7 linked regions of the Homo sapiens genome follow. The protein of the gene in region 5 purifies or fractionates together with the protein of the main gene of each other region. This does not show direct contact. Each region holds a gene or a part of one and is shown on either strand. Other genes may lie near its edges.

Region 1 (3,500 bases), on a different chromosome or scaffold from region 5:
CTGGAGACAGACTGTGTATGGGGAGCAGCGAGTCATTCCGAGTGGCAGTGCAGAGAATGAGCCAGGAAAGGCGCAGACCCTGGGCCCATGTCATCAAGGCGCTGGATGTTGCACCAAGAAGGGAGCTCGGGGTGTGTCCCAATGGGCAGTGATGCTGGGTGAGGGTGACTGGTTTTGTTTAATCCTTTATCTAGGACATTATCTTTTTTGAGAGACGGGTACACAGTAAATATTTGAAAATGTCTAATTCAATGGATCCTGTGGATGAAATGCCCAAACACCAGTAATTTTTTTTTTTTTTTTTGAGACGGCATCTCGCTCTATCACTCAGGCTGGAGTGCAGCCCGATCTTGGCTCAATGCAACCTCCGGCCCCCAGGTTCAAGTAAGTGATTCTCCTGCCTCAGCCTCCCAAGTAGCTGAGGAGTACAGATGCCCGCCACCACACCCAGCTAATTTTTTGTATTTTTAGTAGAGATGGAGTTTTGCTATGTTGGCCAGGCTGGTCTTGAACTCCTGAACTCAGGTGATCCACCTGCCTCAGCCTCCTGAAGTGCTAGGATCACAGGTGTGAGCCACCGTGCCAGACTTAAATATTAGTTCTTTTTTTTTTTTTTTGAGACGGAGTTTCACTCTTGTTGCCCAGGCTGGAGTGCAATGGCGTGATCTTGGCTCATGGCTACATCCACCTCCTGAGTTCAAGCGATTCTCCTGCCTCAGCGACCTGAGTGGCTGGGATTACAGGCACTCGCCACCACGCCCAGCTAATTTTTGTATTTTCAGTAGAGACGGGGTTTCACCATGTTGGCCAGGCTGGTCTCGAACTCCTGACCTCAAGTGATCTGCCTGCCTCTGCCTCCCAAAGTGCTGGGATTACAGGTGTAAGCCACTGTGCCCGGCCCTAAATATTATTAATATATAAAAAAAGCAGGCACATTTATAGAGTATGGTCCTCACCCCTTCCCAGTGGTCTCCAAATGGGGTGGGCTAGACAACCTGCAGCAGTGAAAAAGTGATGAAAAAATCTACTTGTAAGTATTTTTCTTTAAAAATGTGAAAAAAATGGCTTCACTGATTTGTTTGTTTGTTTGTTTGTTTCCTGTAGGGACAGGATCTCAGTCACACACAGTTATCCCGGCTGGAATGCAGTGGTGTGATCCTCCTGCCTCAGCCTCCTAAGTAGCTGGGACTACAGGCATGTACCACCACACCTGGCTTTTTTTTGTAGAGACGAGTCTCACTATGTTGCCCAGGCTGGTCTCAAACTCCTGGGCTCAAATGATCCTCTTGCCTCAGCCTCCCAAAGTGCTGGGACCACTGGCATGCGATACCACACCCTGCCAGCTTTACTGACATTTAATACTTGGACAGACCCTGGTGTTCACGCTGGCTTGTATGTCAGCAGCCGTGGCATCCTGACTGAGGAGGAGGCACCCTGTGATGTGGGGAGTGATGGTGGGCCCTCACCACAAGTCTACTTTAAGCATCCTAGGCGTGTTGGAGTTTACAAGTTTCAGAGCTTTCCAGTTGTGGTCAATTAAAACAAACAAACAAACCACAAAAACTCAAGACCCTTAAATAGCGAAAGCTTTACAATGCTTCGCAGTGATGTGGAAAATGACCATGAGTATCTTTTGTGTGACTTGGAGGTTTACTGGTCATTTCATGGCTTAGTATTTCAAAGAGTCAGAGAATTTAAGGAGAAGGTACAGATTTTCTTTTGTGAAAAGTTCCAAATCCGGAGACATTTTTTCGTTTTTAATGACAAATGACTGCAGCAGTGTGTCATCTACCTTTTTTCTTTTAAATAGACACAACGTAATCTGTCCCTTCAAAGAAAAAGTGACAGTATATGAGAGTTACAGCTTTTCAAAAAGAATCTGTACCAAGAATAGAGCATTTGTGAAAACAGACGTTTGAAGAGGTTTCCACAATTACGTGACTGCGTTCCCAATGATGCTACAAGCGTACTGTCTATATGAACATTTACACCCGCACACCAAAACATCTTCAACACCAGAATCTCCACCTACCCTGATAGCCCCTGAACATACCCAGCCCAAATTCATCAAGGGCCCTCAGATGATGGGTAAATGAAATTGAAAAACAAGTACCCTGCCTCGTAAGCACAGGGTCTGTGCCTTTCTCTGTATCATGTTAATGTGTAAATGCTGTTAATAACTAGGGCCTGAAATATACAGAACTTTTTTTTTTTTTTTTGAGACAGAGTTTCACTCTTGTTGCCCAGGCTGGAGTGCAAAGGTGCAATCTCGGCTCACTGCAACCTCTGCCTCCCAGGTTCAAGTGATTCTCCTGCCTCCGCCTCCTGAGTAGCTGGAATTACAGGTGCCCGCCACCACGCCCAGCTAATTTTTTTTTTTTTTTTTTTTTTTGTAGAGACGGGGTTTCACCATGTTGACCAGGCTGGTCTAGAACTCCTGACCTCAAGCAATCCACCCACCTCGGCCTCCCAAAGTGCTAGGATTACAGGCGTGAGCCACCTCGTCTGGCCAATAAACAGAACTTACAATTGATCTTAAATGCTGGGACTTAGGATTCAATGAGAGTTTATAAATGGGATGTGGACACATGGCTTTCATCTTTAAAAAGCATGTTTATACAATAGTTTTTGTAGCATTCATATGTTGGATAAATTTAATCATGTTTATTTCACCTCTCATCCTTTTTTTTTTTTCTCTGTTAGAGACAGGGTCTTGCTCTGTTTCCCAGGCTGCAGTGCAATGGCATCATTATAGCTCACTGCATTCTTGAATTCCCAGGCTCAAGCGATCCTCCCTCCTCAGCCTCCACAGTAGCTGGGACTTCAGGTGCACGCCACCATACCTGGCTATTTTTTTTTTTTTTTTAGTAGAGACAGGGTCTCACTATGTTGCCCAGACTGTTCTCAAACTCTTGGCCTTAAGGGATTGTCTCATCTCAGCCTCCCAAAGTGCTGGGTATACAGGTGTGAGCCACCATGTCTGTCTGGCCTTCGTCCCTTTAAAAGATCCAAATTTGTATATATTTCTATGTCCATAATACATCAGGACAGTAATTGTAATTTATAACACATAATATATATTGGGCTGCATGTTTACATTCATTCTTTTACACATAACAGTACACATGAAAAAAAAAGTCTGAGGCCTTTTTTTTTTTTTCATGCAGGGTCTCACTCTTTTGCCTAGGCTGGAGTATAGATAGTGGTGTGATCATGGCTCACTGTAGCCTTGACCTCCTGGCTCAAGTGATCCTCCCACCTCAGTCTCCCAAATAGCTGGGACCATGGGTGTGCACCACCATGCCCGGCTAATTGTTTGATTTTTTTTTTTTTTTTTTTAGAGATGGGATCTTGCCATGTTGCCCAGGCTGTTCTTCCAACTTGTGGCCTCAAGTGATCCTCCCGCCTTGGCCTCCCAAAGTGCCAAGATTACAGATGTGAATCACTTGCACTGGCCAAGGCCAATTTATAACCTCAGTGGCCCTTGTGGGGATGAGGTA
Region 2 (3,500 bases), on a different chromosome or scaffold from region 5:
TGCAGTGAGCTGAGATCACGCCACTGCACTCCAGCCTGGGCGACAGAGCGAGACTCCGTCTCAAAAAAAAAAAAAAAATCCAGATGGCAGTGGCCCCAGCAGTTGTGTCTTTTTGAATGTGCTTTAATGAGCACACCCCATTGTACTAAAACAGAACTTTTTTTTTTCTTTTTGAGACGGAGTCTCACTCTGTCTCCCAGGCTGGAGTGCAGTGGCACGATCTCGGCTCACTGCAAGCTCCGCCTCCCGGGTTCACGCCATTCTCCTGACTCAGCCTCCCAAGTAGCTGGGACTACAGGCGTCCACCACCACGCCCGGCTAATTTTTTGTATTTTTAGTAGAGACGAGGTTTCACTATGTTAGCCAGGATGTTCTCGATCTCCTGACCTTGTGATCCGCCGTGAGCCACCGCTTCCAGCCTAAAACAGAACTTTTAACAAAGGCTGGATGATAGGTGAATGGTAGTGGATTCCTCTCTCTGCTACAAAGCGTCCTGTCACGGGAGGATAAGGAACAAGCAGCAGCCCCTGCAGGTCGCACCACAGAGCTCACCCAACCTGAGTCCCTCTGGTACTGACCACTCCAGACTGAGTCCCTCTGGTACTGACCACTCCGGACTGAGTCCCTCTGGTACTGGCCACTCCGGGCTGAGTCCCTCTGGTACTGACCACTCAGGGCTGAGTCCCTCTGGCACTGAACACTCCGGGCTGAGTCCCTCTGGTACTGACCACTCCAAGCTGAGTCCCTCTGGTTCTGACCACTCCAAGCTGAGTCCCTCTGGTTCTGACCACTCCAAGCTGGGTCCCTCTGATACTGACCACTCCAGGCTGAGTTCCTCCCAATAATGACCACTCCAAGCTGAGTCCCTCTGACACTGACCACTCCGAGCTGAGACCCTCTGATACTGACAACACCAGGCTGGCCTTGACCACCAAGTGGGCATACTGTGGGTCAGCCCATGTCTGGAGCCCCTGGGGCCATCTGCCTATTGCCCCTGGGACAAACTGCCCAGCAGCTTGTACTTCTCTGCGAGGCAGGATAATTCCCACCCTACTGGTGACTAAGGGGTTCAGTTCACTCTGACCCTCCTTCAAACAAGGAGGCGTGCAGAGACAGGAGACAGGCTCAAAGAGGTAGAGTGAGCTGCCGAAGGTCACACTGCATGGGAGCTGGCACAGCCGTGTCCCAGGCACTGCTTGGTCTCTGAGCCTCAACCACTGCCCCCCAGGCACCAGCTAGCATCTCCCTGGACCTCAGACGTCCCCGGGGCGGTAACTGAGTCACTTCCTCCCGTGGGCCTTCTCTGTAGGTGCGTGGAGATGCTGATCAAGGAGCAGATGAGGAAATACAAAGTGAAGATGGAGGAGATCAGCCAACTGGAGGCTGCAGAGAGTATCGCCTTCCGCAGGCTTTCGCTCCTGCGACAAAATGCTGTGAGTACCGGTGATCGTGGGGGCGGGACCTCTTTGGTGGGGCGGAGCCTGGTGCTGGGCAGGGCCTTGGGCGTGGCTTTGTTGCTGGGAAGGCTGGTGAGTGGGGTCTTGGTGGGCGGGGCCTTGGGTGGGCAGGACCTCCCATGCCGAGGATGGGACCGGGTAGTGGGTGTGGTCTCGGGTAGCAGGGCGGGGCCTCCCTTCCCAGTTCCCCGCCCACTCCTACCACACCCTTGGCCACAACCAGCCTGGCTGGGGCCACCAGGCCCTGCAGGTAGGGGCAGACTTACTGCCTTGAACGAAAGACGATGGTCCTCGCTCAGCCTCACTCCAATTATGTTCCTCTAGGTGGGGCAGGTAGGGGGACCAGCTTCCTGCTTGCTGGTGGTTCAGGTCATGCGTCCAGCCTTGTCCCTTCTGACCTGGGCCCTACCCACGGGGAAATGTTCCCATAGCAGAAGAATCAGCCCCACAGTGCAGGGGTGTGTTAGTGGGGAACGGGCTCTGGGCTCCTGTGGGAACCAGGGACCCCCTATCTTGGTACCGGTCATTGGATGTATCCCCAGCTCATGCCTGTGTCTGTCTTGGCCCGTGTGGTCACCCTGTGTTCATCTCTCTCCCAGCCATGGCCTCTCAAACTGGGGTTTTCGTCTCCCTATGAGGGGGTCCTGGTATGTACGCGTTCGGTGGGCCCGCGGTGCATGTCTCCCGGTGCAGTGCATGCTGGGGTTCCCTGGGGCCCTGGGCCCCTCGTAGGATAGACAGAGCCTGTCCTAACCTTCCGGAAGTGCATGCTGGGGAGGCCCCTTGCCTGCTGACCTTCTGTGCTCAGGACGACTAATCGGCCACATGACCACCACTCTGTCCCATGGGATTCCTAGAGAAGTCTCACTAAGAGCCCAGCACACTCACATCACAACTAACCTCCTGGGATCTGCTCACACCTCCGGCAGTAACCTCGCCCACTCAGAGATGTCAGTGGGACCCCTTGCTTCTTTGTTTCAGAACAAGAGCCCCAAGACCCGGGACATCCAGGAGGAGGAGCTGGAGGTGCTGCTGGAGGAGGAGGCAGCCGGCGGCGATGAGGACCGGGAAAAGGAGATTCTCATTGAACGGATCCAGTCCATCAAGGAGGAGAAGCAAGTGGCTCAGTCCCCTCCCTCAGTCCTTCATGTTTAGGGCAAGCTGGAGTGCAGGTTCCATCCCTGGTGGTCCGCTTGACCTCGCCAGGTTTGGTCCTGTCATCCCTAACACTGGGCAAACAACACTTTTTTTTTTTTTTTTTTTTTTTTTGAGACGGCGTCTCGCTCTGTCGCCCAGCTGGAGTGCAGTGGTGCTATCTCGGCTCACTGCAACCTCCATCTCCCGGGTTCAAGCGATTCTCTGCCTCAGCCTCCGAGTAGCTGGGATTACAGGTGCCCACCACCATGCCCTGCTAATTTTGTGTTTTTAATAGAGACAGGGTTTCACCACATTGGCCAGGCTGGTCTTGAACTCCTGACCTCAAGTGATCCACCCACCTTGGCCTCCCAAAGTGTTGGGATTACAGGCGTGAGCCACCGCACTCGGCCTTTATTTCTGAGACAGGGTCTTTCTCTGTCACCCAGGCTGGATTGCAGTGGTGCGATCACGGTTCACTGCAGCCACAATCCCCTAGGCTCACGGGGTCCTCCCACCTCAGCCTCCCCAGTAGCCGGAACCACAGGTGGTGCACACCACCACGCCTGGCTAATTTTTTTTACTTTTTGCAGAACAGGGTCCGCCTATGTTGCCCAGGCTGGGTTCAAACTCCTGGGCTCAAGCAATCCTCCTGCTTGGGGTGGGGGGAGGTTGGGGACACAGAGTTACATCTAGGAGCAGGACAGCCTGCTCTGTTCCACACTGGCCCAGCACTTCCGGTGGGGTGGCCTTGGACACCACTACCCTTTTTCCTCCAGGGAGGACATCACCTACCGGCTGCCGGAGCTGGACCCAAGGGGCTCGGACGAGGAGAACCTGGACTCGGAGACGTCGGCCAGCACCGAGAGCCTGCTGGAGGAGCGGGCCGGGCGGGGGGCCTCGGAAGGT
Region 3 (3,500 bases), on a different chromosome or scaffold from region 5:
TAAAGTTTTAAAAAATTACTACCGGACATTTCATTCATTCAATAAAAATTTATTAAGAAAAAATTCATTTCCAGAAAATCATTGTAAAATCACTGGTAGCTTCTATTTGGGGTCATCTTGTAAGATGGCTATACAGAGTTTTGGAGTAATTTACTAATTGTCTTGAATGGGGCTCTAGATAGACTGTCCAAAAACTTAAGAAAAAATTAGCAAATAACAACATTAACTTTTTTTTTTTTTTTTTTGGAGACGGAGTCTTGCTCTGTTGCCCAGGCTGGAGTGCAGTGGCGCAATCTTGGCTCATTGCAACCTCTACCTCCCAGGTTCAAGAGATTCTCCTGCCTTGGACTCTTGAGTAGCTGGGACGACAGGTGCACATCACCACACCCAGCTGATTTTTATAATTTTTAGTAGTGATGGGGTTTCACCATGTTGGCCAGGCTGGTCTTTAGCTCCTGACCTCAGGTGATCCTCCCACCTCAGCCTCCCAAAGTGCTGGGATTACAGGCATGAGCCACCATGCCCGGCCAACATTAACTTTTAGAAAATAGAAATACTTCAATAATAATGACTTCAACAGTACATTATATCCTGAAGATCAGTTGGAATATTTATTCTTCCTAACCAAGCACACAAATGTGTGTTCATGAAGGGTTTATACAAGTTCTAGGTCTTACCTCATCTATGTTTCTAAGCCATTTGCTGATGTTTTCAAAACTTTTACCATTGGTGATGTCATATACTAGCATGATACCCATTGCGCCTCTGTAGTAGGAGGTTGTGATGGTGTGAAATCGCTCCTGGCCTGCTGTATCCCTGAAATAAACAGCCAATAATTTCTATTAAGCATTTTGATATTACTACATTTCACATAAAGGACAAAACAAGAATAGTTTTTCCTAAGTATATATAAAAACTTTTTAGTTGAAGGAAATTAATAACCTACCCATACTGGATGAAAATCTGAAAGGGAAAACAGTAGGAAGTGACACATAAAACTCAAGTTTATTGAATAAGCACTAGCAAACACCATAGAAACTCTTAAAATTTCATTTTATTTAATAATTTAGTTCCATAATGTAACACAAAAGCAGGTAGGATTTTTAGAACATTAGAGAACTATACCATAGTACAGTCATATTTACATTTAGAATCATTAACCAAAAGTTGTAAAGATAACCTCACTTATAAATAATAAGACAGAAATGTAAATAGTAGTATTTTCCATTATTTAATGCTTAAAGCCAAAGGTGTAAGATGTATTTTGCTCCTGTAACTATGCCCTCTCATTTGTATCATCATTTTGCTCTTTTATGGATCATCTCATCAGCTTACAAACATGTTTTAGTATCTTTTTTAAAAAAGCAAAAATAAGGTCGGGCGCAGTGGCTCACACTTGTAATCCCAGCCCTTCGGGAGGCTGAGGCGTGTAGATCACTTAAGGTCAGGAGTTCAAGACACTTGGCCAACATGGTGAAACCCCATCTCTACTAAAAATACAAAAATTAGCCCGGCATGGTGGCACGTGCCTGTAATCCCACCTGCTCGGGAGGCTGAGGTAAGAGAACTGCTTGAACACAGGAGGCACAGGTTGCAGTGAGCCAAGATGGTGCCACTACACTCCAGCTTGGGTGACAGAGCGAGACTCCGTCTCAAAATAAATAAATAAATAAATAAATAAATAAATAAATAAATAAATAAATATAAAGCAAAAGACCCCAATCTCAACCCTGTATCTCTCCAACTATCCCTGCTCCTCTTTCGAGTTAATATTTTTAAAACTTTTATTTTGAAATAATTACAGCCTTACAGGAAGTTACAAAACTGTGCAGAGAGGTCCTGGGTACCTTTCACCCAGCTTTTCCTAATGATAACATCTTATATTACTGCAGCATAATAGCAAAACCAGAAAATGGACATTGGATACAATCTACAGACCTTATTAAGATTTCAGGGTTTTTTTTTTTTACATGCACTTATTTGTGTATGTGTGTATATATAGTTCTCTACAATTTATTACATGTACAGATTTGTGTAACTACCACAAGACAAAGAACTATTACATCACCTCTTTACTCCCCATAGTCCCTAAACTCTGATCAATAATCTGTTTTCTATGTTTATATTTTTTTCATTTCCAGAATGTTACGTAAGTGGAATCATGTAGTATGCTACCTTTTGAAATCGGCATTTAACACTTCTTTCACCATAATGCTCTTGAAGTCCTCTCAAGTTTTGCACATAATCCTGGTCTGTCCCATTTCATTGCTGGGTAGCATTCTATGGTATGTCTGTATCACAATTTGCTTAATTATTCACCCATGGAAGGACATTCAGGGTTGTTTCCAGTTTTTGGCTATAACAAAGTTCGAAGAATATTCATTTACAGGTTTCTATGTGGACATAATTTTTCATTTCTTTGAAATAAATGCCCAGGAATGTTATTTATGGGTAATATGGTAAGTGTATAACGGTAAGAAACTGGCCAACTTTTTCCAGAGTGGCTCTATCACTTGACATTTGCACTAGCAACATATAAAAGATCCAGTTTCTCTGCATCCTCACCAGCATTTGATGCTGTCACTTTTTTATTTCTGTAGTTCTAAGAGGGCACATAGTAATATTTCATCATCACATTAATCTGTATTTCCCTGTGGCTAAGATGGTGAACATTTTTTCATGTGTTTATTTGCCATCCACATGTCCTCTTTGGTGAAATGTCTGGTTTTTTTTTTTGCCCATTTTCTAATTGGATTGTTAGTTTTTTGTTTTTGGGGTTTTTTTTTTGAGATAGAGTTTCGATCTTGCCGCCCAGGCTGGAGTGCAATGGCACAGTCTCGGCTCACTGCAACCTCTGCCTCCTGGGTTCAAGTGATTCTCCTGCCTCAGCCTCCCAAGTAGCTGGGATCACAGGCGCCCACCACCACGCCCAGCCAACGGTTGTATTTTTAGTAGAAATGGGGTTTCACCATGTTGGCCAGGCTCGTCTCAAACTCCTGACCTCAGGTGATCAGCCCGCCTCAGCCTCCCAAAGTGCTGGGATTACAGGCGTGAGCCACCGTGGCTGGCCTGGATTGTCAGTTTTTTTGTCTTTTTACTGCTGACTTTTGAAAGTTCTTTTTATACAGAAGTCCTTTGTCAGATACACTGGCTTGTAAATATTTTCTCCAAGTCTGTAGCTAGTCTTTTCATTCCCTTGACAGGGTATTTTGTAGAGAGGAAGCTTTTAATTTTGTGAAAGTCTAATTAATTTACTGATTTTTTTTTCTTTTACAGATCATGTGTTTAGTGTTATGTCTAAGAATTCTTCACCTAGTCTTTTTTTTTTTTTTTTTTTTGAAACAGGGTGTCGCTCTGTTGCCCAGGCTGGAGTGTAGTGGCACGATCTTGGCTCACTGCAACCTCCGCCTCCCAGGTTCAAGAGATTCTCCTGCCTCAGCCTCTGGAATAGCTGAGATTACAGGCACGTGCCACCACATGCAGCTAATTTTTATATTTTT
Region 4 (3,500 bases), on a different chromosome or scaffold from region 5:
TGAGGATGAGGGCTGGAGGATAATGATGTAGCTGAGAATAGACAGACGAAATACTTTATTAGGCTTCTCAGGCTAGGAACTACCAGTTACCGTGAAAGGTGATGATGTAGCAGAAGTGAGCAAGTGGCCTGCCGAATTTGAGTGCAAGAGGAGGCACTGAGTGGGGAGATGAGCCTGGTTAAGTTCTTGCCTTTATACCAAAGGTCGTCTTCAAGGTGTTTTTGCCCAAGTAGGCAACTGTATGCTTATCAACCGTCTTGAAATTCTGCACAGAATTCTCTGGGTTTATACATTGCACAAATTTGAAGAACATTGTATAGTGGTCATCAGTTGTTATGATACACTGCTGCCTCACTGTGGGTGACCCAACCCATTTGTTACAATTTGTCCCCAGAGGTTATTCCCTCCCAGCCCCCCACAAAAAAAGACTGTGGGTCTTTTGACTGGGAAAATTACCATTATTGTGAGTACTATTTTTTTTTCTAAAGCGACCGAGTAGATCCTTTTCTCCGATAACTTGATAGAATACTTAGATTTTTAAAACAGACTACCAAATGAATTTAAAACCAAATTAATTCAACATTCTCATCTGGCCATAAATTGAGTTCTTTAACATGTAGTGAAGCAAAGGGTGATGTCCCCATTTTGGCACTTTGCTTTCTTAAGTTAGTGTTCATTAACACCAGCCCCAAACAGACTATTGTGATTATTTGGAGCCTTGAAGTAATTGTGTCCGTGGGGACAGTAGCATGTGACTAGGGTTCTCATTGAAACATGAGGTTTCTGGCATATTTTGAGAGGTACTGGGAAGGGATGTAAGGCAAAGTACCTCATTTATAACTACCAAAACAGGTTATGTTACAAGCAAGATTACAGCCTTACAGCATCAGTTTTGAAAGTAATAGAGTGAAATGATATAGCATAGTTTGAGATTATAACTTGTTTTAACCTCTCAGAATTAAGTTGTCCAAGACACCATCTAGTTTAAGCAGTTAATATAAGCTGCTTAAATGGTGGTAATAATAAGCAATATTACATGTTTATGATACTTGTTTTACTGTAAGCTACAGTAAATCTTTAGTACTTACAAACAGGGTGACATATTTTGTAGACTAAGACTGGTCAGATGATATTCTTTCCCATATTTTTGCAGAGGCTAGATGTTGAAAACAGTGAAGAAAAAAATACAATTTTTTATTGACTTCTGTAGGATTTATACAAAGCCCTTTTTTAAAAATGTGAAGTTTGAAAGTTCATACCATTTATTCACTAAATACAGTTTATCAGTATTTATCTCAGCTAGGTGCGGTGGCTCACGCCCGTAATCTCAACACTTTGGGAGGCTGAGGCAGGTGGTTCTCTCAAGTCCAGGACTTCAAGACCAGCCTGGACAACACAGTGAAACCCCATCTCTATTTAAAAATAATAAAAATATAAAAAAATTTAAAAAATTATCTCTGAATATAATGTCATAAATTTAGAGTGACAGTTGAAATGAAATCTTTCTTAACAGAAGGTTTATTTTTGTTTTTTGTTTTTTTCCTCAGGCTTCATGGTGTATTAGATAAACTTCGCTCTGTTACAACTGGTAAGATTCATAACTTTTTTTTTTAATTTCTGCTTGCTATGGCATATGATTTGTTTCTTTCTAAAGTCATAGTGCTTTGGGAAAAACCCATCAATTTCAAAACGGTTCATTTGAACTTTTTTAGAAAGCACATACTTTTATGAACTTAAGAGCAGTAAATTTAACATAATTCAAAGATAATTTAAGTGTGGGAGAGGGAGCAGTGCACTTTATCCGAAGGAAATAATTACATATATGTGCAAAGATTTAGCCTCAAGGATATTTCAGTATTTTATAATTGAAAACAATTTAAAAGTTCAGTCATAATAAACGAAATTGTTGTATTACCATGTGTGGAATAATATTTAACTATTAAAAATAATGTTGTGGAAGAATAACAGAATATACACGCATAAGATACATGTTTTAAAAAATGTGTATATATGCTCTTCCCCCGAAAAATCACCTTTGAGATAATTGGTGATTTTTATTATATTTTTAAAATTTTCTACAATAAACATACTGCTTTTGAATTGGTGATGAGGAAGGAAACGACTTAAAGTAATAAAAATAGATGGCCGGGCACGGTGGCTCACGCCTGTAATCCCAGCATTTTGGGAGGCCAAGGTGGGCGGATCATGGGCTCAGGAGATGGAGACCATCTTGGCCAACCAACATGGTGAATCTCCGTCTCTACTAAAAATACAAAAATTAGCCAGGCATCGTGGCACATGCCTGTAATCCCAGCTACTTGGGAGGCCGGGGCAGGAGAATCGCTTGAACCAGGGATTTGGAGGTTGCAGGGAGCCGAGAACGCGCCACTGCCCTCCAGCCTGGCGACAGAGCGAGACTCCATCTCAAAAATAAATAAATAAATAAAAATAAGAAATAAAAATAGATTAAAAGGACTGTATTTTTCTTTTCAGAACCCTCTAGTCTGAAGTCTTCTGATACCAACATCTTTGATAGTAACGTGCCTTCAAACAAGAGCAATTTCAGTCGGGGAGATGAGAGGAGGCATGAAGCTGCAGTGCCACCACTTGCCATTCCTAGCGCGAGACCTGAAAAAAGAGATTCCAGAGTTTCTACAAGTTCGCAGGAGTCAAAAACCACAAATGTCAGGTAAGAGTCTGGTGTAGACCTGCTGGGGGCAGATGGCTCTGTGTATGTGACATTTATATTAGTTTTTATATCTTTCAGTTTGCTGTTCTCAGCAATTTTTAGAAACAATGAAGTGATCGTGAGTAGTTTTTTGAATAAAATAATGGATAAGATCTAAGTATGATTATCTTTTATCACAAATTTAGTAAATCAAAGTTGAAAGAAAGTGCAATTTCAAAGCAGTTTTGAATGGAATATGTAAAGGGAGTATCCTCAGTTTTTTCATTGAAATTTTTCAAGTAAACATTCTTTAAAGATTTGGTGATAATTGCCCTAATTTGGCTGTAATACATTTTGTTGTTCTTTTAAATAGACAGACTTACGATGATGGAGCTGCAACCCGACTAATGTCAACAGTGAAACCTTTGAGGGAGCCAGCACCCTCTGAAGATGTGATTGATATTAAGCCAGAACCAGATGATCTCATTGACGAAGACCTCAACTTTGTGCAGGAGAATCCCTTATCTCAGAAAAAACCTACAGTGACACTTACATATGGTTCTTCTCGCCCTTCTATTGAAATTTATCGACCACCTGCAAGTAGAAATGCAGATAGTGGTGTTCATTTAAACAGGTTGCAATTTCAACAGCAGCAGAATAGTATTCATGCTGCCAAGCAGCTTGATATGCAGAGTAGTTGGGTATATGAAACAGGACGTTTGTGTGAACCAGAGGTGCTTAACAGCTTAGAAGAAACGTATAGTCCGTTCTTTAGAAACAACTCGGAGAAAATGAGTATGGAGGTTTGTATGTACTTTTAAATTCTGGCTTA
Region 5 (3,500 bases):
GCTTTGAAAACCAATAACAAATGGAAAAATTTATATAAACTATGTAAAAATCTATCTGCTTCTTTGGACTATGCAATAGTTTCTTAGATATGACACCAAAAGCACAAGAACAAAGGAAAAATTGATAGATTAGACTTCATCCAAAAACTTCATTCAAAGTTTGTCCTTTGAAAAATTTTTATGTTTCAAAGGACAACATCAAGAAAGTGAGGCCAGGCGCAGTGGCTCACATGTGCAATCCCAGCACTTTGGGAGGCCAAAGCGGGTGGATGACCCGAGGTTAGGAGTTTGAGACCAGCCTGACCAACATGGTGAAACCCCGTCTCTACTAAAAATACAAAAAAAAAAAAAAAAAAGAAAAGAAAAAGAAAGAAAGTGAAATGACAACCGACAACCCACAGAATGGGAGAAGATATTTGCAAATTATATTTGTCTGAGCAGGAACTCGTATCCAGCATATTTAAGAACTCTTAAAATTCAACAACAAAAAGACAACTCAATTTAAAAATGGGCAAAGGATTTGAATAGAAGATATACAAGTGACCAATATGCGCATGAAAATGCTGGATATCATTAGCCATCAGGGAAATGCAAAGCAAAACCACAGAGTGGGCTGGGGTGGCCAAAATAAAATAGGCCATAGCAAGTGTTGATGAGGATGTGGAGAAATTGGAGCCCTCATACACTGCGAGTGGGAACATAAAATGGTGCAGCAGCTGTACAAAGCAGTTTGGCAGTTCCTCAGAAAGTTAGTTGCCTTATGACTCAGCAATCCCTCCCCTACTTACATACCATGAGAAGTGAAAGCATATGTCCACATAAAATCTTGTTCATGGCAGCATTATTCATAATAGCCAAAAAGTGAAACCTATGCAAATGTTCATGAACTGACAAATGGGTAAACAAAATGTGGTTTATCCATCCAGCAAACTGCTCTTCTGCAATAAAAAGAAATATCGTTCTGTTACATGCCATAACATGGATGAACTATGAAATGATTATGCCAAATTTAAGAAGCTAGTCACAAAAGGCCACATATTGTCATTTAAATATGATTCTGTTTACGTGAAATGTGCAGAATAGGCAAATCCATAGAGACAGAAATTTGATTAGGGCTTGACTGGGGCTGGGGAAGGGGAATGACTACTTATGGGTATACAGTTTCTTTTCGGGGTGATGAAAATGTTCCACAGATAGTGGTGATGGTTGCACAAATCTGCAACATACTAAGAACCACTGAATTGCAGACTTTAAAAGGGTGAGGTTTGTGGGATGTTAATTATATCCCAATAAAGCTATTGGGAAAAAAAATTTACCTGCTTTGACTTAGAGCTAAAATAGAGCTGTCAAGAGGTATAGTTTATTTTTGTTTATATTTGGTTTAGTTTATAAAGGCTTTTTAAAATTTTTTTTATTATACTTTAAGTTTTAGGGTACATGTGCACAACGTGCAGGTTTGTTACATATGTATACATGTGCCATGTTGGTGTGCCGCACCCATTAACTCGTCATTTAGCATTAGGTATATCTCCTAATGCTATCCCTCCCCCCTCCTCCCTCCCCCCACTCCACGACAGGCCCCGGTGTGTGATGTTCCCCTTCCTGTGTCCAAGTGTTCTCATTGTTCAATTCCCACCTGTGAGTGAGAACATGTGGTGTTTGGTTTTTTGCTCTTGCGATGGTTTGCTGAGAATGATGGTTTCCAGCTTCATCCATGTCCCTACGAAGGACATGAACTCATCCTTTTGTATGGCTGCATAGTATTCCATGGTGTATATGTGCCACATTTTCTCAATCCAGTCTATCATTGATGGACATTTGGGTTGGTTCCAAGTCTTTGCTATTGTGAACAGTGCCACAATAAACATACGTGTGCATGTGCCTTTATAGCAGCATGTTTTATAATCCTTTGGGTATATACCCAGTAATGGGATTGCTGGGTCAAATGGTATTTCTAGTTCTAGATCCTTGAGGAATCACCACACTGTCTTCCACAATGGTTGAACTAGTTTACAGTCCCACCAACAGTGTAAAAGTGTTCCTATTTCTCCACATCCTCTCTAGCACCTGTTGTTTCCTAACTTTTTAATGATCGCCATTCTAACTGGTGTGAGATGGTATCTCATTGTGGTTTTGATTTGCATTTCTCTGATGGCCAGTGATGATGAGCATTTTTTCATGTGTCTGTTGGCTGCATAAATGTCTTCTTTTGAGAAGTGTCTGTTCATATCCTTATAAAGGCTTTTAAAAAGTCATCTCCGCCAGGTGCAGTGGCTCACATCTGTAATCCCAGCACTTTGGGAGGCCGAGGTGGGAGGATCACTTGAGACCAGGAGTTCAAAAGCAGTGTGGGCAACAGAGGGAGGCTCTATCTCTACGAAAAATAAACATAAAAATAAAAAAGTCATATCATACTGTTAAATATAGTAATATTTTAAAATGTTTACATTTTGGCATTTCTTATTTTGAATTACGGTAACTGTGAATTGTGACTTCATTATTCTAGGATACTTACTTTGTTCTTAACTGCAAACTAAACAATCTTTTGGATGATGTCAACATTTCTATAACTAAATGTATTCGCATCCTTCATTATTATTTAAATTGGCCATTTTGTGAAAATATTAGGCACTTTAAATAATCAGAGGAGTGGGGAAATACTGCCGAAGTTTTCAGTTGGCTCTCATTATTTCTATTATCTTAAATAAGAAAGGTAAGAAAGTGGAATTCTGGTAATTATTTTGCAATCTCTGCGCTCTGCACCACTGTGAACTCATAGCTGAAGCTGCCTTGGACTATTTTACCTGGGCATCACCCATATACTCCTTGTTATTATAAATTGGGAGACAGTAAAACAGACTTGATTTTTGAGGTCTATTGCATTAAAAAAAAACAGAATTTAGAAGATGAACTCAGTTGTACTTATCCTTTAATCCTGTTTTATCTCTGGCAACTATTAAACAAGTCGAACTGCTCAGAGAAGTTGGGCAATAAGCTAAAGCTACTTCATAATAGTATGGTTCCATCAGAACAGATGGTGCAGTGTCTGACCTATTTCCCATCAAGAATAGATTAAAACTCTTACATAATAGAACTAGTACTGTGCAGTCTGTTTTCCATAGCACTATTCCTGGCTGCAGAAAGAGATCAGAAATAAAAGAAAATAATGTAGTTAGACAAGTAGAAGAACATCCTTCCAATTAAACTGACTTAATGTATTATCATAAATCATGGAGGCAGTAAGTCTGCATGCTACTTGATGACTGGTAAATGGGATCCTGAATTAAGCTTTGATTCATTCATTTGACAAATATTTATTAAATGTCTGCCATGCACCCGGACAGCTGAGCCCTAGGGATACAGCTGTGAGCAAGGCAGATGTACAAGGCAGATCGACAAAGCTTTCATTTTAGTCAAAAGAAGACACATAAGTGAGCACACGATATTTTGCAGAGATAGACGTATGTTTTATGAATGTTTGTCCTATCATTCAATGAATA
Region 6 (3,500 bases), on a different chromosome or scaffold from region 5:
ATTCCTGTAACAGAAAGTCAGAGAATAAAAAGATTAAGTTTGACATTATTTTATGTATTTTTAAAAATTATTTTAACATCAAGAAATCAAAACAAGCAAATCAGATTATATAATGTGTATAAAAATCAACCCTAAAATATGCTGGCATATTTCATTTTATCTGTACCCATTTAAAAAAAGTACAAATATAGGGAAAGGTTATATTTAAATGCATGAAGTATACTGAAAATGACACTTTCTAAAAAGTAGAAACATGGCGATAAAGAAAACTATTAATGTTTACCTCATGTATTGAACTTACATTTTTTTTCTGTAAATTGATGAAGCAAGCAAGATTTTCCTACTCCCATGTCCCCTGTTTAAAAAAAAAGAAGTTTCAGGTGGCAATTACATTTCTCAATTTTATGCAATGATCGCTATATTCCTTACCATATAACATATCACAAGTTTCTGGGACACTTAACAAATTTTTATTTTCCTACTTTATAATGATTCAAAAGTTTTCACTGTGAGACACAAATGGAATATTATTCCCAATCTTTAGCAGTGACAGAATTTGGCTGTAAATTATTACTGTTAATAAATAGCCACCAGCTGGGAAGTGCTTATTTTTTTAATGGAATTTTTTTTACTTTGAGCTGTTTCAAAATTTTATGTTTTTGTTTTCTTTTGTTTTTTTCCTTAAACTCATGCATAAAAGCAACAAATTTCAAAAACTGACAAATGGGGTAGCATGTAACAAGCAGAAATAACAAACTGAGTTCTGGAAGCTTGATTCACTAGGTCCCTGTCTTATACTTCTTGTATTATTCTATGAAAGAAAAGAATTTGCATTACATGAAAACCCCAGGAGAAAAGATGTCATCTCTGACTGTACTATAGCAATGTTAACCCTTGATGAAGGAAACATTAGAAAGGACACATTAAGTTCAACATGAAAGCAAACTGTTCTAATGTGAACAATTCATTGAAAAACGTGTACTTTCAAATGTAGTTTTATGTTTGGATAAATAGCATTAAGACTTAATTTGAGCAAAACCTTCTTGAAACTTAAGGAAAAAAACACCAATTAAGAAAAATACTATATTTTATATATATTACACAATTGATTTGGAATCAAACAATATTCTCTACCAATTTTTCCTTATAACAGAAACCCAGGGGAATCTGAGAGCTTTCACAGTATTTTAGGAATGTTTCTGCACTCCTTGAAACACTGATACTTCCTAGCATCAAAAAGCTTTCAAGCAGCCCTCAAGAACAATGAACATCACTTCACAAGGTACCCACCAGCACTGTACCACAGAAATATCCATGGCCACAATGCAAAAGCTGCATTGCTAATGCAAAAATAAATCTTATAAAAGGAGTTTTAGTTTTACAGTAAGAAAATCACTCAGTCCTGAAGTGGTACTGTTTAAGTATTAACATATAAATATTTTGTATGTTAACCTTCTTTTGGGAACAAGAGTGTAAGTTAAATAAACTTACCAATAATAATATATTTAAAGATGTAAGAGTAGTTGTATGGTGCAGTTGCCATGGTGGCACTAAAAACAAAGAAATCTCTGTTACTTCAGAAGGAAAGCATATACAAGTAATTCAAACGGATGACTGATATCCTTTAAAGGTAGAAAAGGACACTGAATACAAACAAATGTTGGTTACAGTAAGTCAAAATAAAACTGCATTTCACAAACTGATCAAATACACAAATTCTCTTGGATGAATGATGCTTACACATTCTCATGTGCTATCCACAGAAATATAAGAAACCATTTATACCACAACTCCAATATTTCACTTAATATCCACTAGAACTTAAAAGTATAATTTAAAAAAAATCCAATAAGTATTAATCTGAAAATTGTCAAACAAAAAAATCTTTATAAATTTAAGTTAAACATCACTATAGTCTCTTCTCCCCTTAAAGTCCCCTTCCCTGTTAACTGATCAAGTAAGTTACTAATGATCTACTTGTTCAGAACTCTGATATTAAACAGAATGGTATATAAAGGAACCACTTAATTTATAAACACAAAACAACGTTTTTACTCTACTTTAAATCAACAGTTAGCAGCGCAAAGAGCAATCGTATGATTTCCAAATCAATGTTGGAACTAGACTGAATCACATGAAACTGTTCTTCCTATAGATTTTTCAAGTCAAAGTTTATTGGCATTTTCATATAGCTCAACCTAATACAGGACTTGCAGATTATCACTCACACACACACACACACACACACACACACACACACATTTTTTGAAGACCAGGCTGGTCTTGGGTCTTGAACTCCTGGCCTTAAGCGTCCCTCCCATCTCAGTCTCCCAAAGTGCTAGGATTACAGGCATGAGCCACTGTGCCCAGCCAGATTAACAACATAGTAAGTGCTTCCCATACACTATTCTAGGGACTGAAAGAAATAATGTCATAAAATTGTACTTATGGTTGCAAAATTTGAAAGCTTGTGTATTAGAAGATATTTCAAAAGATCACAGCCCATTTCTTACCCTCAAATAGACTTAACCTAAAGAATTCTAATTTCTCTTCTACTTAAAAAGAAAACAAAAAACTTTCCAATTTATTCAAATGAATTATCTGAATGTGTAAGACACGTGCTAGGTCCTAGAGAGAAACAAGGGGCTGAACTGTAAAACTGGTAATAACTTTCAATAAAGTTTATTCTCAAACCAGCTTTCAGCTTAAGACAAAAATTATTTATACATATAAAGATTTCACCCATTTAAAAAAATCTGACTTACAGTATTTTTAAGCCTGGCTTTTAGTGTTTCTGTCAATGTCACATTACACAAGCCAGACATTTAATATGACTGGAGAAATTTATTTACTGAAATTATCACCTTACTATATACCATATTTCAAGCAAAAGTTCTATATAACAACATTGAACCCGTAGAAAGAATATATATTTAAAACAAGTGTATTATTATAAGGGAAGAGGAAGTTGTTAATTACAGTAAAGTATTAATCACTTCCACACACTACAGTCTTCTCACTTAGCTATCTGTATTACATTTAGTGAAAGTAGAAGCCTTGTTACCCATTCCAGTTTGGCATGTTCTAACACATTTATAATCAGTCTCCTGCATCACAGAAAACTCCCTTAACCAGTTCTTTCAGGAAAGGGAGTTTTTCTAGTTAGATTAACTGATTCTGAACATCACAACAACTTTATTCCCTTTTCCAGGCACTAGGAACTCAAAACTTTTAAGAATGAACTTGGTCCTGAGACTAAAACTGGTCTGGATTATTTACCTGATCTCTGAACCAGATGCCAAACACAAGGGGGAAAAGTAATCTCTTACATTAAAAATATTTAAAGATTATTAACTTCTTAACTTGAATTCTTCCGACTCTTCTAATCAATTTTTAATTCTTCTAAATTCTTTCCCCATTCAAACCTGGGTAAAAGTAATCACTTAGTCACCTTCAAATTACTGTCTCTTCTGTGCTCTTCTCCCTTGATTTTCCTAATT
Region 7 (3,500 bases), on a different chromosome or scaffold from region 5:
CAAGGCGTGGTGGCTCACCCCTGTAATCCCAGCACTTTGGGAGGCTGAAGCAGGCGGATCATTTGAGGTCAGGAGTAAGTTTGTATTACCTGTCATGGACTTTAATTGTCTTACAACAATATTGACTTTCCATTTGATCATTCACTGTGATGAATGTCATTAATATTAATAACTGTTCCTTATTGAGCATATAGTATATGCTAGGCCTTTTACATATATCTTATTTTCACATCAACCCTGCAAGGTTTGTTAGCGACACATGCGTACAGTGAGACTAACAGAGGTTAACTAATTTGTCCAAAATATTACAGTTATGGCCAGGCGTGGTGACTCTGGCCTTTAATCCGAGCATTTAGGGAGACCAAGGTGGGCAGACTGCTTGAGTCCAGGAGTTTGAGACCAGCCTAGCAACATGGCAAAACCCCATCTCTACAAAAAAATACAAAAATTAGCCAGATGCGGTGGTGTGTGCCTGTAGTCCCACTCGGGGCTGAGGCAGGAGAATCGCTTGAGCCCGGGAGGTGGAGGCTGCAGAGAGCCGTGTTCACGCCACTGCATTCCAACCTGAGTGACAGAGCAAGACCCTGTCTCAAAAAAAGGTAAAACAAAAAAAAAATTACAGTTATGGAGTAAGCAAGGACTTAAAAACAAGTTTTATCACATTTAAAAGCTTTCTGAAAGCTTCTTTCCACTGTGCCCCACAACCATTCAGTCTAAGCATAATATGATTCTAGTTCTATATCATTAGGCCATTTGCCCTTAGCAGTGGACATGCCCCTTCTATGTTCTTAATTCAAATATGTATTTTTAAGGAAGATCTGCTTAACTTAGAGGGTAGCTTTTTCCCTCCCTTTCCAATAGTGTCAGCCTATTTGTTTATGTTTTTAATTCTTTATAGTACTATACTTTTAAGTAGGTGCTTGCTTTGGTTATTGTCCTTGTTTTCAGGTGTTTTAAGCCTATCAGAAAGTTCCGTATGTAGCTGCACAGTAGTATTGAAGCAGATATGAGTCTCAAAGCCTTACTCCTTAGCTGTCTTGCTTTTGAAAAAATATAGAAACTAAAAGGGTTTTTGAGCTTTGGAAAGAGGTCAGTCACTAGCCAGTCAGGTTTCTGCAATGTATTCTGTGCTGTCAATCCATTGTGAACACTGATTATTCAAAGAAATAATAGTTATTTAGATTTAAAATATTTTAAGTTTAAAATAATAGGTTATTAAGATAGCTATTTATTAATGGCCTGATTTATTAAAATTAGTCATTTAAAATATTATCAAATAATAAAGCAGTGTCTGAATTATTTCTCCTAAATGTTCATTTGAGGCAGTAAGGTGATTGCCTGCTTTTCCTCTCTTCACTCTTTTTATAGGTATTGATGATATTGATGGAATTTGGAACATGAGCCATTAAATACCTAGAAAAAAATTCCATAGGGTTTTAGGTAATTGAAGCAAAATTAATATTGCTACTTTTAGTAGGAGACTATCTTATTTTGCCTTTGTGAGGCAGAATCTTTTTCCTGTTTGTTGGAGCCACTGGCCACCAGGTGGTGCTTTTTGCATTCTTTACAGAATAACACGACGGTTTTTCCTCTGGTTACTGTCAGACATTGTCATATTTAGCTAATTAAAATTTCCAATGACAAATATAATGTAGGAAGTTAGAACTAATATGAAACTTCTTGCTGTGGTAGATAGCTGTTCAAAGAAGGAAGAGTTTGTTACTGAATTTGTTGGTATCCACTGAGCTTTAGTGTTGTCTGCTTCCCTCTCTCTGATTCTTAGGCTATGGTGGCAGATAGTTTCTTGCAGTTGCCAGCAACTAGGTTCTCAGATTATTCGAGGTCCTCAGTATATAGAACCTTTGGACTTGTCCACCTCAGTGCTAAACATTTTATCTTTTATTGGGTGCTTATTTCAATGCCTTATCTGAAATTTATCTGAAATTGTCTCCTAGAATCTATATGGTTCCAAGAAAAAAAGTAACCTTATTTATAAGATTTCTCTTTTCTCCCTAAAAGCCATAGTAGAAGAATAAAAATGTTTGTTTGAAGTGTCCTTCCATAGGGTATTTTTCCTTATCGTTATCTACTGTTTTTATTACCTTTAGCACTCTGGGTGTCCAGCCAACTCATCTTAAGTTCAAGGAATCAGTATTTTGCAGTTTCTTCATTTTTGTTCTGATGGCTTTTTTTAAAAGTATAATCCCAGCTTGGTTCTGTTGTTTAAGGAGAGCTAAACTTATAATTTAAATCTGCATGATATACATATATTAAGTTTTAATAACTCACTAAAATTGTTTTTTAAACAAAGAATACAGTTTTTCCGGCCGGGCGCGGTGGCTCAAGCCTGTAATCCTAGCACTTTGGGAGGCCGAGGCAGGCGGATCACGAGGTCAGGAGTTCGAGACCATCCTGGCTAACACAGTGAAACCCCATCTCTACTAAAAATACAAAAAATTAGCCAGGCGTGGTGGCAGGCACCTGTAGTCCCAGCTACTCAGGAGGCTGAGGCAGGAGAATGGCGTGAACCCGGGAGGCGGAGCTTGCAGTGAGCCGAGATGGCGCCACTGCACTCCAGCCTGGGTGACAGAGCGAGACTCCGTCAAAAAAAAAAAAAAAGAGAATACAGTTTTTCCCCTTATGATTGTGGAGTACTTAAAAATCTGTACACTTTAATTTTTACTTTAACTGGTTTATATCATCCAGGAAACCAAAATACTTGTAGGATCCAAGAGGCTAGATTAATATATTTTAGTAAACACTAAGATAGCCATACTTATTGACCGGCTCTAAGTTAATGGGAACTGTAGAAAATTTTGCTCTTACTTTTGATCATTTACACTTGCCTAAGAATCATAGGTTTATCTCTAGGTCTCTGGTATCCCCCAAAATCAAAAAAGAGTGCCTGTCTCTTTGGAAAAGTTGTTTTCTTTGTCAGAGGCTGCAGATTCAGGAAAGGTATGAATTGAGTCATTTGAAGGAGGATGAGGCATGATCAACCCTCAGATCACAAGGCTTAACTTTATAATTTCAAGACATTAGAAGTCTGGTGGGGATTTGCATTATTTTTGCTGGTAATTAAAATGGCAATTTTATATTTAGAATTGGCTTAATTTTGTTATGAAAATAAATCAGTATAAAGATAAATATTTACTTTTTTCAAAATAGGTAATAAAATAGACTTGGAAAAGGAGAGACATGTTTCCATTCAAGAAGCAGAGTCGTAAGTACTGTGACCCTCCCATTCCCCATCACTCCCTAGTAGAAATCTTCCTCTTTATACGTTTTGCTTTACCATTTAGGTATTACTCAAATCTCTTAGCATGGATTGAGGTGTTGGATTCAGTGAAGCATGTTTACATGGTAATTTCTGGGCTTGTGGCAATAAAGCCCTTACTTCCCTTTTTGACTTCAGTGAAAAATACGAGTGATATAAAACAAAACTATCATGATCAAATAGGCAGTAAGCCAGAAAAACTTTTGAAGTATTTGAGTCCCAA

What was found.
Region 1: the proteins of SLC46A3 (region 5) and ABCA3 purify together in Homo sapiens (affinity purification with mass spectrometry; one large-scale study listed by BioGRID and IntAct). This does not show direct contact.
Region 2: the proteins of SLC46A3 (region 5) and MYO9B purify together in Homo sapiens (affinity purification with mass spectrometry; one large-scale study listed by BioGRID and IntAct). This does not show direct contact.
Region 3: the proteins of SLC46A3 (region 5) and RAB10 purify together in Homo sapiens (affinity purification with mass spectrometry; one large-scale study listed by BioGRID and IntAct). This does not show direct contact.
Region 4: the proteins of SLC46A3 (region 5) and ZC3H14 purify together in Homo sapiens (affinity purification with mass spectrometry; one large-scale study listed by BioGRID and IntAct). This does not show direct contact.
Region 6: the proteins of SLC46A3 (region 5) and RAB14 purify together in Homo sapiens (affinity purification with mass spectrometry; one large-scale study listed by BioGRID and IntAct). This does not show direct contact.
Region 7: the proteins of SLC46A3 (region 5) and RAB21 purify together in Homo sapiens (affinity purification with mass spectrometry; one large-scale study listed by BioGRID and IntAct). This does not show direct contact.

What each region holds. Positions count from the first base shown.
Region 1 is NC_000016.10:2,334,229-2,337,728, forward strand, and holds part of ABCA3 (phospholipid-transporting ATPase ABCA3), read right to left. Parts: intron 1-3,500. UniProt on the Homo sapiens protein: Catalyzes the ATP-dependent transport of phospholipids such as phosphatidylcholine and phosphoglycerol from the cytoplasm into the lumen side of lamellar bodies, in turn participates in the lamellar bodies biogenesis and homeostasis of pulmonary surfactant.
Region 2 is NC_000019.10:17,208,277-17,211,776, forward strand, and holds part of MYO9B (unconventional myosin-IXb), read left to right. Parts: intron 1-1,309; coding exon 1,310-1,433; intron 1,434-2,056; coding exon 2,057-2,104; intron 2,105-2,438; coding exon 2,439-2,572; intron 2,573-3,370; coding exon 3,371-3,498; coding exon of another isoform or gene 3,499-3,500. UniProt on the Homo sapiens protein: Myosins are actin-based motor molecules with ATPase activity. Unconventional myosins serve in intracellular movements. Binds actin with high affinity both in the absence and presence of ATP and its mechanochemical activity is inhibited by calcium ions.
Region 3 is NC_000002.12:26,107,084-26,110,583, reverse strand, and holds part of RAB10 (ras-related protein Rab-10), read right to left. Parts: intron 817-3,500; coding exon 678-816; intron 1-677. UniProt on the Homo sapiens protein: The small GTPases Rab are key regulators of intracellular membrane trafficking, from the formation of transport vesicles to their fusion with membranes.
Region 4 is NC_000014.9:88,569,537-88,573,036, forward strand, and holds part of ZC3H14 (zinc finger CCCH domain-containing protein 14), read left to right. Parts: intron 1-1,547; coding exon 1,548-1,588; intron 1,589-2,493; coding exon 2,494-2,689; intron 2,690-3,041; coding exon 3,042-3,471; intron 3,472-3,500. UniProt on the Homo sapiens protein: RNA-binding protein involved in the biogenesis of circular RNAs (circRNAs), which are produced by back-splicing circularization of pre-mRNAs.
Region 5 is NC_000013.11:28,705,471-28,708,970, reverse strand, and holds part of SLC46A3 (lysosomal proton-coupled steroid conjugate and bile acid symporter SLC46A3 isoform a precursor), read left to right. Parts: intron 1-1,338; exon of another isoform or gene 1,339-2,374; intron 2,375-3,500. UniProt on the Homo sapiens protein: Lysosomal proton-coupled steroid conjugate and bile acid transporter. Preferentially recognizes lipophilic steroid conjugates or bile acis as endogenous substrates and seems to mediate escape from lysosomes to the cytoplasm.
Region 6 is NC_000009.12:121,191,870-121,195,369, forward strand, and holds part of RAB14 (ras-related protein Rab-14), read right to left. Parts: intron 1,551-3,500; 5' UTR 1,544-1,550; coding exon 1,492-1,543; intron 356-1,491; coding exon 302-355; intron 1-301.
Region 7 is NC_000012.12:71,778,863-71,782,362, forward strand, and holds part of RAB21 (ras-related protein Rab-21), read left to right. Parts: intron 1-3,168; coding exon 3,169-3,223; intron 3,224-3,500. UniProt on the Homo sapiens protein: The small GTPases Rab are key regulators of intracellular membrane trafficking, from the formation of transport vesicles to their fusion with membranes.